Linked DNA regions of Homo sapiens: region 2 is reported to be linked to region 1. Evidence: microRNA targets listed by miRTarBase, many of them from high-throughput screens and not tested one by one. Region 1 holds a microRNA gene; the other region holds the end of a gene's coding sequence.
What was found. Region 1 holds the annotated microRNA hsa-miR-1267 (CCUGUUGAAGUGUAAUCCCCA, at 2,544-2,564, shown strand). A microRNA usually pairs through its seed, bases 2 to 8, with sites in the 3' UTR of a target mRNA and lowers its output. Matches are read on the target gene's strand: a 7mer-m8 pairs with bases 2 to 8, a 7mer-A1 pairs with bases 2 to 7 and ends in A, and an 8mer does both.

Region 1 (4,538 bases):
TTAGGCATCACAGACCCTCAACAAAAGACAGATTTGGGGGTGTTGCTTTGTTGGAGAGTGTGTTTTGTTTTGTTTTCTGAAAGATGGCCTTTGGAATACTTCCTCAAGTCCTTTCCTGGTAATTATGTGATTCACAGAATCTCTAATTTGAACAGTTATTAAAGAATATCTTCATTTGTTTGTGCTGCTGTAGCAAAATACCATACACTGTGTACTTTATAAAGAACAGAAATTTATTTTCTTACCATTCAAAAGGCAGGGAAGTCCAAGATCAAGGTGCAGGCATGTTCGGTTGTTGGATGAGGGCTGCCTCCTCTGTAGGGGAGGAAGGCTGTGTCCTCTCATGGCAGAGACCTGAAAGCCCTTTTCAGAAGGGCCTTATCCATTTATGGTGAAGGAGCCTCATGACCTAATCACCTTCCAGGGGCCCTGTCTTTCAATGCTGTCACTGTGGTGATTTGGTTTTAACATGAATTTTGGAGGATCTGACATTCAAACCATAGCAAAGAACCTACACTCACGTAATTATAGCACTCTGCATTTCAAATGTGTAAATTTCTATAAATGTTTCTAACAGTCACTTTACAAACAAAATATGTAAAACAGAGAAAAAAGAAAGGGGCAAAACTGAGCCTCATTAAAAGTTATGGTTATAACTCTCTTTTCGTGGGGATATTAATTTTAGTAGAATGAGTTAAATAAAAGTTTAAGTCAAAAAGAGAGGCAACAGCTGCCTCCAGTCAAAGTGTCTGGTTTCTAAATGATGTTTTAAATTTCCAGCTTAGCATGTATTCTTAATTTTTATATCATTTTTAATATGTTAATGGCTACTGTTTTTAGGTTGTTTTCTTAACAGTTCTGCAACTACCTTTAAGATGTTTTTTGAAGTCTAGGTGGCAATATTTTGTCTTCAGTTAATATAATTGCAATATTACGTTAGAAACTAGCACAAAATTATATTCCTGAATAATCTCTAAATTGCTAACTTTTCAGGGATTTATATTTTCTGAAAATTAACATTCTTGAGAATTTCATTAATGTCCCAGGCAAATCACATAAATGGACCAAACACATGAGACAGAAAAATTAAAGTTGAAATGAGGTCTATAAGAGATTCTCAAATATTTGAAATACCTCAAGTCAAAAGATATGAGTATATAAAAACTTCATGTAATATAATTTGATTAATTTTCCAGTAGTTTATGGAGTATGATTTTGGACTATACCACACTGTAAGCCTTAGGTTTTGTAATAACCTGAACTCTTGATATTTAAGAAGATAAATTTCATGTTTGTTGATGAGGAAGCACACACCACTAGAATGAACGCTTATTGGAAAAGCATTGTAACACTGAGAAAACACTAGCAATGAATGATTTTTCTTCATAGAGAAAGGAAGCAGCAAAACAGTCCATAATGAGAGCTCAGCCAAGGGAAACAAAAATCATTGAAATTTCTTAATAGATTCTTTAATACTGATTATTAGATAGAAGCATGTTTTACACTGTGGGAATCCATAAGATTTCAAAGAAAAAGATGCTGTTTTACTTTAAAATGTTGACCTTGAAAGGCTGTAGCTTTTTAAACTCTACTTTTGTTCACTTTCTTTCTCTTTCATTTTGTTCTTGGTTGTCTGCAAGAAACTTGGAGGAGAACCTAGCACATCAAAGGATTTAGTATACAAAAGGGTAGCTTGTAAGTCAGTTAAGAAACAAAGCATTTTCTATTAAATGCTTCTAGGATAACTCACTATTTGAGAGAAAATTTTCAAGTTAGGTAAGTATGCAAATTCAGCTGCGTTATGAACTTGATTGTGAAAAAGCCATGTTAGTCATCTAGAAAACAAATACGTAAATAGAAGATTGCAAAATGGCAGAGAAGTTTATAAGCATAAAATTAATTTTTAAAAATTCTAAGGGGAGTATCAGTAGATAATACTTCACATGACACAAAACTTTGGCATATCTAACACCATCATAAAAAAGATGCAAATGAGAAGCTGGAAAAATTACTTGCAACACGTATTCCAGTCAAACAACAACAAAAGAAGATGAGCATACTGAGATAAAAGTGGAAAAAAATACAGACAGACAACTCATAAAATGAAAAAAATACAAACATTTAATGTGAGTTTAACTAAAATGTACTGGTTTTGATGTTGAATAAACTGGGAAAATTAATAAGATAATATTGATGATTAGTGTCACTGATTATATTAGACCATTCTTGCATTGCTATAAAGGAATACCTGTGATTGCATAATTTATAAAACAAAGAGGTTTAATTGGCTCATGATTCTTCAGGCTTTATAGGACCCATGGTTCTGGCATCTGCTCGGCTTCTGGGGAGTCCTCAGGAGCTTACAATCATGGTGAAAGGTGAAGAAGGAACAGTCTTTGTCACGTGACCAGAGCCAGAACAAAAGAGAGAGAGTTGGGGGTAAGGTGCCATACACTCAGAAGAAGAGCTCACTCATCACCAAGAGGATGGCCCAAGCTATTCATGAGGGATCTGCCTCCGTGATCCAAATACCTCCCAAATCTCCTGTTGAAGTGTAATCCCCACCTCCAGCATTGGGGATTACATTTCAACATGAGATTTGGATGAGGACAAATATCCGGACTCCATCAGTGGTCAAGAACTTTTTATTTCTGGAGAGCTATGTTAAAATATATGTTAAAAGTCCATCCTCTTTAGTTCTGTAATTCCTAATATAGGAATGCATCCTAATAAAATATCTCAGATGTATATATATATATATATGTGAATGACAATGTTCAGCAGAGTTCTTTTTTAGGGTACAAAGACTATCCCTTTAACAGTTTTTACATAACTAAAATGTTTCCACTAAAAATCACAATAAAAATCGTCAGTGTTCTTTTCACATTTCAGGCAATCCTGCTGGTTTTCATATTATTTTTAAAACTTTATAAGGAGAATGGTGAAAATAGTTCATATATAACTTAGATGCTTGTTCTTTCTATATTGTCAGCTGCTTTTCACAAATGATTAGCCTCAGCTCTGGACAGATTTCAGCTTACATCAATATGATGTAAGTGATACTATGTTTTCTCTATAGCTGTGGTGATTTGCAATATTATTTTTGCCTCCTATTTGTCATGTAGTACCTGCTGGGCTGCCTCAACAGATAGTATTTGTACAATGGCATTTTTGTGTGGAATGAGTCCATCTTCTGCATACATCCACATGTTATGAATATACTAAAATGATCACAGGTCATACATAAAAATCTTGTCATTTAAAAAAAATCTTACAAATATTAAATTTAGAGGAATGTCTTAGATTTTGCTTCAGTCTATATGGATATACTTCATTCATTCAGCAAGTAATTTGCTGAGCACTTACTATGTATGATGTTTTCATGGCTCTGGGGATATAGTAGATGATCAAGTAGCTTAAAAGTATCCATGCTAGTGGTGGATATAGGTAGTAAATAGGAAACAAATATAAAAATAATTATGGATTGGGATATATGCTATGAAGTAAACAAAGGCAGACTATCTTGCTAGGATGGAGGTTTTGTCTTTGGACAGAGCTTTTAGGCCTCCTTAAGTAGATGACTGAGCTATAAAGCATAAGACTGAGCCTGCCTCATTAATAGGCAGGAGAGAGTGTCCCAGGGTGGAGAGAGAACAAGGTAAAGGTGCCCAGGTGGGGATTTGAGGGTTGGAGCTAAGGGAGCCCATATTGCTGAATAAGAGTGAGCTGTGGAAAGAAGGCATGAGTTAGCTATAGAACCCTTGCTTCTTATTCTTACTCTTGGGTATTAACAGTCATCTTCCTCTTGAAAGCTGAGAATAGCAGTTTAGGCAGATTGTGAGTTTGGCTTTGGTTCTTTATGGAAAGATACCTTGGAGTCCCATGGCCACTAGATGAAGGGATGTCAAGCATTGTAACTAGCCAACTGCATCCCTACCATGGATAGTTTCCAACATTCTGTTGCTCTTAGAAAGTCCTGAGACATCATCCTTTCCTTCAGGTGATGCCCGTTCCTCTCTCACATGGCAGTCAGAGCTTACGGAAGATCTAAAAAAAGGAAAAAGATGTAATTAATTCATCACATCTTCCAATCATCACACACACATTGCAATGGGAGCCAAGCTGGTGAATGGTTGGCTACTGTCCTGCGGGGCCATCTTGGAAGAGCTGGAAGTCAGCCTTGCTGGCCTTTTATCTGGAAGTCCAGATTAGACCACTGAATTGCACACATCTAGGACATATAGTGTGAATATTGAGGGTTGTATGAAAAGTCAAAAGCAGAAAGTTTGAGGAACATCTAAGATTACCAAATAATTTGCTGTTTCATTAATGTACTTTGCTTGCTTAAATCTCCGTTTTCAAATTCCCTTTCTGCCATCTGGGGCATTCTCTTTCCTGACTGCCTACCCAATTGCTACTCATCTTTTTTATCTGAAGGCCTGGATCGGTGAAGTGATTCTGAAAGTCATACAACTTGTTAATACCAGAGCTATGGTCTCGTTTCTCTGCTCTTGAATAATTATTCACTATGCAGGTAT
Region 2 (4,000 bases), not on the chromosome of region 1:
CTTGGAACAGATTCATTCAGATAGTGGGTGGAAATGTACATGTATGGTAAGCATTGCTGGCCTAGTCACTGAAAAATGTAAACTCTTATTTTTGATTGCAGGTGGAAGTTAAGCCATATGTCTTGGATGATCAGCTGTGTGATGAATGTCAGGGGGCCCGTTGTGGGGGGAAATTTGCTCCATTTTTCTGTGCTAATGTTACCTGTCTGCAGTATTACTGTGAATATTGCTGGGCTGCTATCCATTCTCGTGCTGGCAGGGAATTCCACAAGCCCCTGGTGAAGGAAGGCGGTGACCGCCCTCGGCATATTTCATTCCGCTGGAACTAAAGGATAACTGCAGTGCTCATTTTCAGGCCTCAGAATAAGTGCACTCTTCTGTTCATTCTGACCCCTTCCTCAACCTCTTCACGCTGGCATGTCCTTTTGTAGCAGTCTGTAACTTAACTATAGTATAATGAAAAGAATGACCTATAATATAGGTGTTTTGTAGATTCTTGTGTCACTGCAAACAATATGAACTCCTTTTTCGTATTGCCATCGGGTTGCATGGAAGTTTTATTCTCTTGTTTTGCTGGAAACCAAGAGGATCCAAACTTCCTGCAACATTTTCTTAGAGGAGAGAGAGAAATATTAAAAGAGAAATGAAACAATAGAGTATTTTGGGTTTTTAATTAAATTATTGTTAATAATATAACATATAAGAATACTTTTATTAAAATAACCATGCAACAATAACACTATCGGTCTATCTGACAGTTTTTCCCCCAGGGAAGTGCTTTTGCCTTTTCCTTTCTTTTTTTTTTTTTTTTCATCTTTTTTGTCTCTCTCTTTTTTCCATCCCTTTTTAATTTTTTTAACAGCAATGGAGGAAGTTAACAATTTTTAATGGAAAGAGCATGTTAGAGCAAACAAATGCATAAGCAAGACTGAGCAGCATTATAATTAATTTTCAGGGTTTTGAGGCTGAACATAATTTCATTATCCCTCAAAAAGTTACCACCACATCAGAAAAAATAAAAAAAAAATAGTAAAGTAGGCAGAGCTAGGTTTATTTTCTCTTAAACAATTTTTAAAATTCAGAATGTAAAAATTGGGTAAATTTACTACTGAGGGGAGTGCACTTATTTATTTAACTTACTTATCTGGTCAAAGCCCCAGGAAACCTACCAAAGCTAGAATTAATGACAACTGGTGGGAAACCTAGCATTTCCTCTCCTGAAGAATAAATGTATAAATGTTATTTTTGATGTTTATATATAAACTCTATATCCTAATTTACTAATACTCATCAGATGTCAGCCTTTGCTCTCCATTTTGACGTTAAAAAACAACAACAGATCTAGAGATACCTCAAGGATATCATTTTTGATTTTGTGTTACAGTACACTTGTAGCCAAAACTGGAAGACAAAACCAATATATAATTTGGCTGCTGATTGGCTTACTTTTAGATTTAAAGTTACTTTGGGTATCCTGTAATTTAGTTGTAACATAGAAAATGAAAAAACAGTTAAAAAAAGTGAAGTAGTTGCAAAGTGTTTTGCACTGTTGAACTAAGTAACTGTGTAAATCTGTGCAAAGGTACGTATGTTTATCTTACTCTTCCTATAAACTAAAATAACATTACAGTTTCCGAATTTAGCATGGGACATAGTCAGTGTTTGAAGTGCCAACTTCATCAAGTAATGCATGCTTTATTATAAATAAAATTCTAGCTTTGAAAGGCGTTATGTGTTGAACAGTATGCTTCAGGGGTAAATTTAAAATAGTCTCTTGAAGCCCTAGTCATGGAAGTAACTTTTATTTTAATTGACATTCTCTTATTAAATGCCCTATCCATCATTAAAAGGTTTATTATCAGTGGGCAAAACATGAAATAATATGATCGAATGGCAATCTTGCTAGTTGCGCTACCTAACAGTACCATCTTGGATCCTTCAAAACCAAAGACTTGCCCCAGCACTGCTGTGGAACCACCTGGCTTATGACCCCTATGGATGATCTTTAGGAAAAGCAGCCCTTTACTTTTAATACAGGCTTTAATGAACTATACCTGTTAAGTTCCAAAGGTCAAAATGGAGGCATTTGCTGTCTAATATTCAAACATAGAAAGGGAGCTGCTTTTAAAGAATTCCCTGCAAATACTGAAAGCAGTCATGCGAATGGAGGGTGCTCTTGTGTAGCTGGTCAGGGACTTTTTTTTCTTTTCTCCTGAACTACATGATTCTAATTGGAATGTTCATTTGCCTCTTTTTACTCTTTTAAATGCTTGTAGGTGGCTTGGGGTGTGCTATCGTGCTGTTCCTACTCAGTAAACAGGTGTGATGAGTTAACAAGAAATAACACTGTTTGAGAACTAGCTTTGAATAATAATTTTTCCCTTTGTACATGACCTGCTGAATTTCGGTACAGTGTTTTTGTAGCTAACTTATTTTGTCATGCACATAATGTATATTTGTTATGCACTACTTTTGTATATCTTGTTTTTCCAACAGTGAACATTTTTAGGCACACTTTTCACTGACGGGATATCTCTTTATGCAATACCTCAATTTTTCATATTGCAAAGAGTAGCTTTTTGTACTTTTATTACTGAGAGATCTTCATATACTTCATTTTTTAATATAAATAATTTTAATAAATTTTATTTTCTTATATTCTGCTTTTTATACATTTCAGTGCTCTGCATACATTTTAAATTATGAATGTCGTGCACTGGCAATGCTATTTTAGAGTCTGCAGAGAAGAGAAAGCATGTTGCTTAAACATCCTTCCCCAGCACCAGCTATTGGTGTACCTATAATTTAAGAAATAGTCTATGTAAAGTCACAAATTAATGAAAAAAATTCGCATGAAAATGACAGATAACACTGTAGTTCCTAAAAAAAAAATTAAATGCATAAGCATAAGGTAGAAATTAAAATAACAAAATTGTCTACAGCTTCTTACTAAGTTTTTAAAATTATTCATAAAATGCAGACATTTTTGGTGAATGTTTAGCCATTTTTAATATTAATAAATTGATGTTAAGTGTTTGATTCAGAGATGTCTGCTCTTTTAAATTATATATAAGGAAAAAAAATAGCCTGCCTTGGGACAGGTGTGTAATGTTAGTGTGCATGACTAATGTAAGAAATTGTTATTCTACTAATATTTACTTGTGATTGTGTGACAAGTGTGTTTACAGATTATTGGTTACACTTCAATTTACAGGGCATAAACAATGATTATCTATTACTCTGAACTTTATGATTACATGTTCTTCAGATTACATGGGATTGTAGTTGGGAGTTACCATGTAACTCAAACATAATTAACATGTAATTAGTTTACAGATTGTAGGGCATCACTTCAATTCACCAAGCATGTAGTTCTAGCGCACTAGCATGGCGCCAGCCATGTACTTACAATGTAGTTACAGAGTAATTACATGGTGATTTTTGCAATGTAAAATAAAGTGTTTCTGATTATTTTCTATGTAAAGGAACCCTCTCCTTTCCCCTTCTGGTCCCTGCGCTTTGGTATAATATATATACTTCTCCATACACAGACCTCTGCAGAATGCAAAATAAAACTTGCAGTGAATGAATTTAGCATTTTATGAGAGTGCTGTTGGAAAGACTTGATAATTCACCCCTTTTGTTTTGAAGAGTTGAATCTTCTGTTAAAAGGTGATTTAAAACTTGAATGTGATGAATTGTGGCAAGTTAACTTCAAGTTATGTGCAATACTTATTTCAAACTTTTGAAAGATCTTTGCAGTGTAATTCTTTGTTTTTAATTGCAGACATTTAAAAATGTCATTTTCTACTGTTAAGAGTAATCCTCTTTCTTGCTGGTGTTTCTAAAGAAAAGAATCAGAAATCAATCTTTCTACTAATGTAAATTTGAGATTATTTTTAAAAATGGAATAAAAGAGGTTTTGGTCATTTGCTTTATTTTATTATTTTAAAGCTACTGTGATTGATAGCATTGTAAGAATCGGGACAATATTGTATTC

Region 2: the mRNA of CPEB4 is a reported target of hsa-miR-1267. Seed matches in the 3' UTR shown: 7mer-A1 at 1,334-1,340.

The regions. Positions count from the first base shown.
Region 1 is chr13:107,529,243-107,533,780 of GRCh38, reverse strand. MIR1267 (microRNA 1267) reads left to right here and starts at 2,533; the gene lies at 2,533-2,610. The region is part of intron 1 of NALF1 (NALCN channel auxiliary factor 1); the gene reads left to right. LOC112268110 (a long non-coding RNA gene) reads left to right here. Exons shown (of 3, transcript XR_002957493.2): 1 at 1-4,538.
Region 2 is chr5:173,955,809-173,959,808 of GRCh38, forward strand. CPEB4 (cytoplasmic polyadenylation element binding protein 4) reads left to right here. Exons shown (of 10, transcript NM_030627.4): 10 at 102-4,000. The coding sequence ends at 329. Among named protein-coding and RNA genes, the nearest start is that of C5orf47, 31 kb to the right of the region's middle.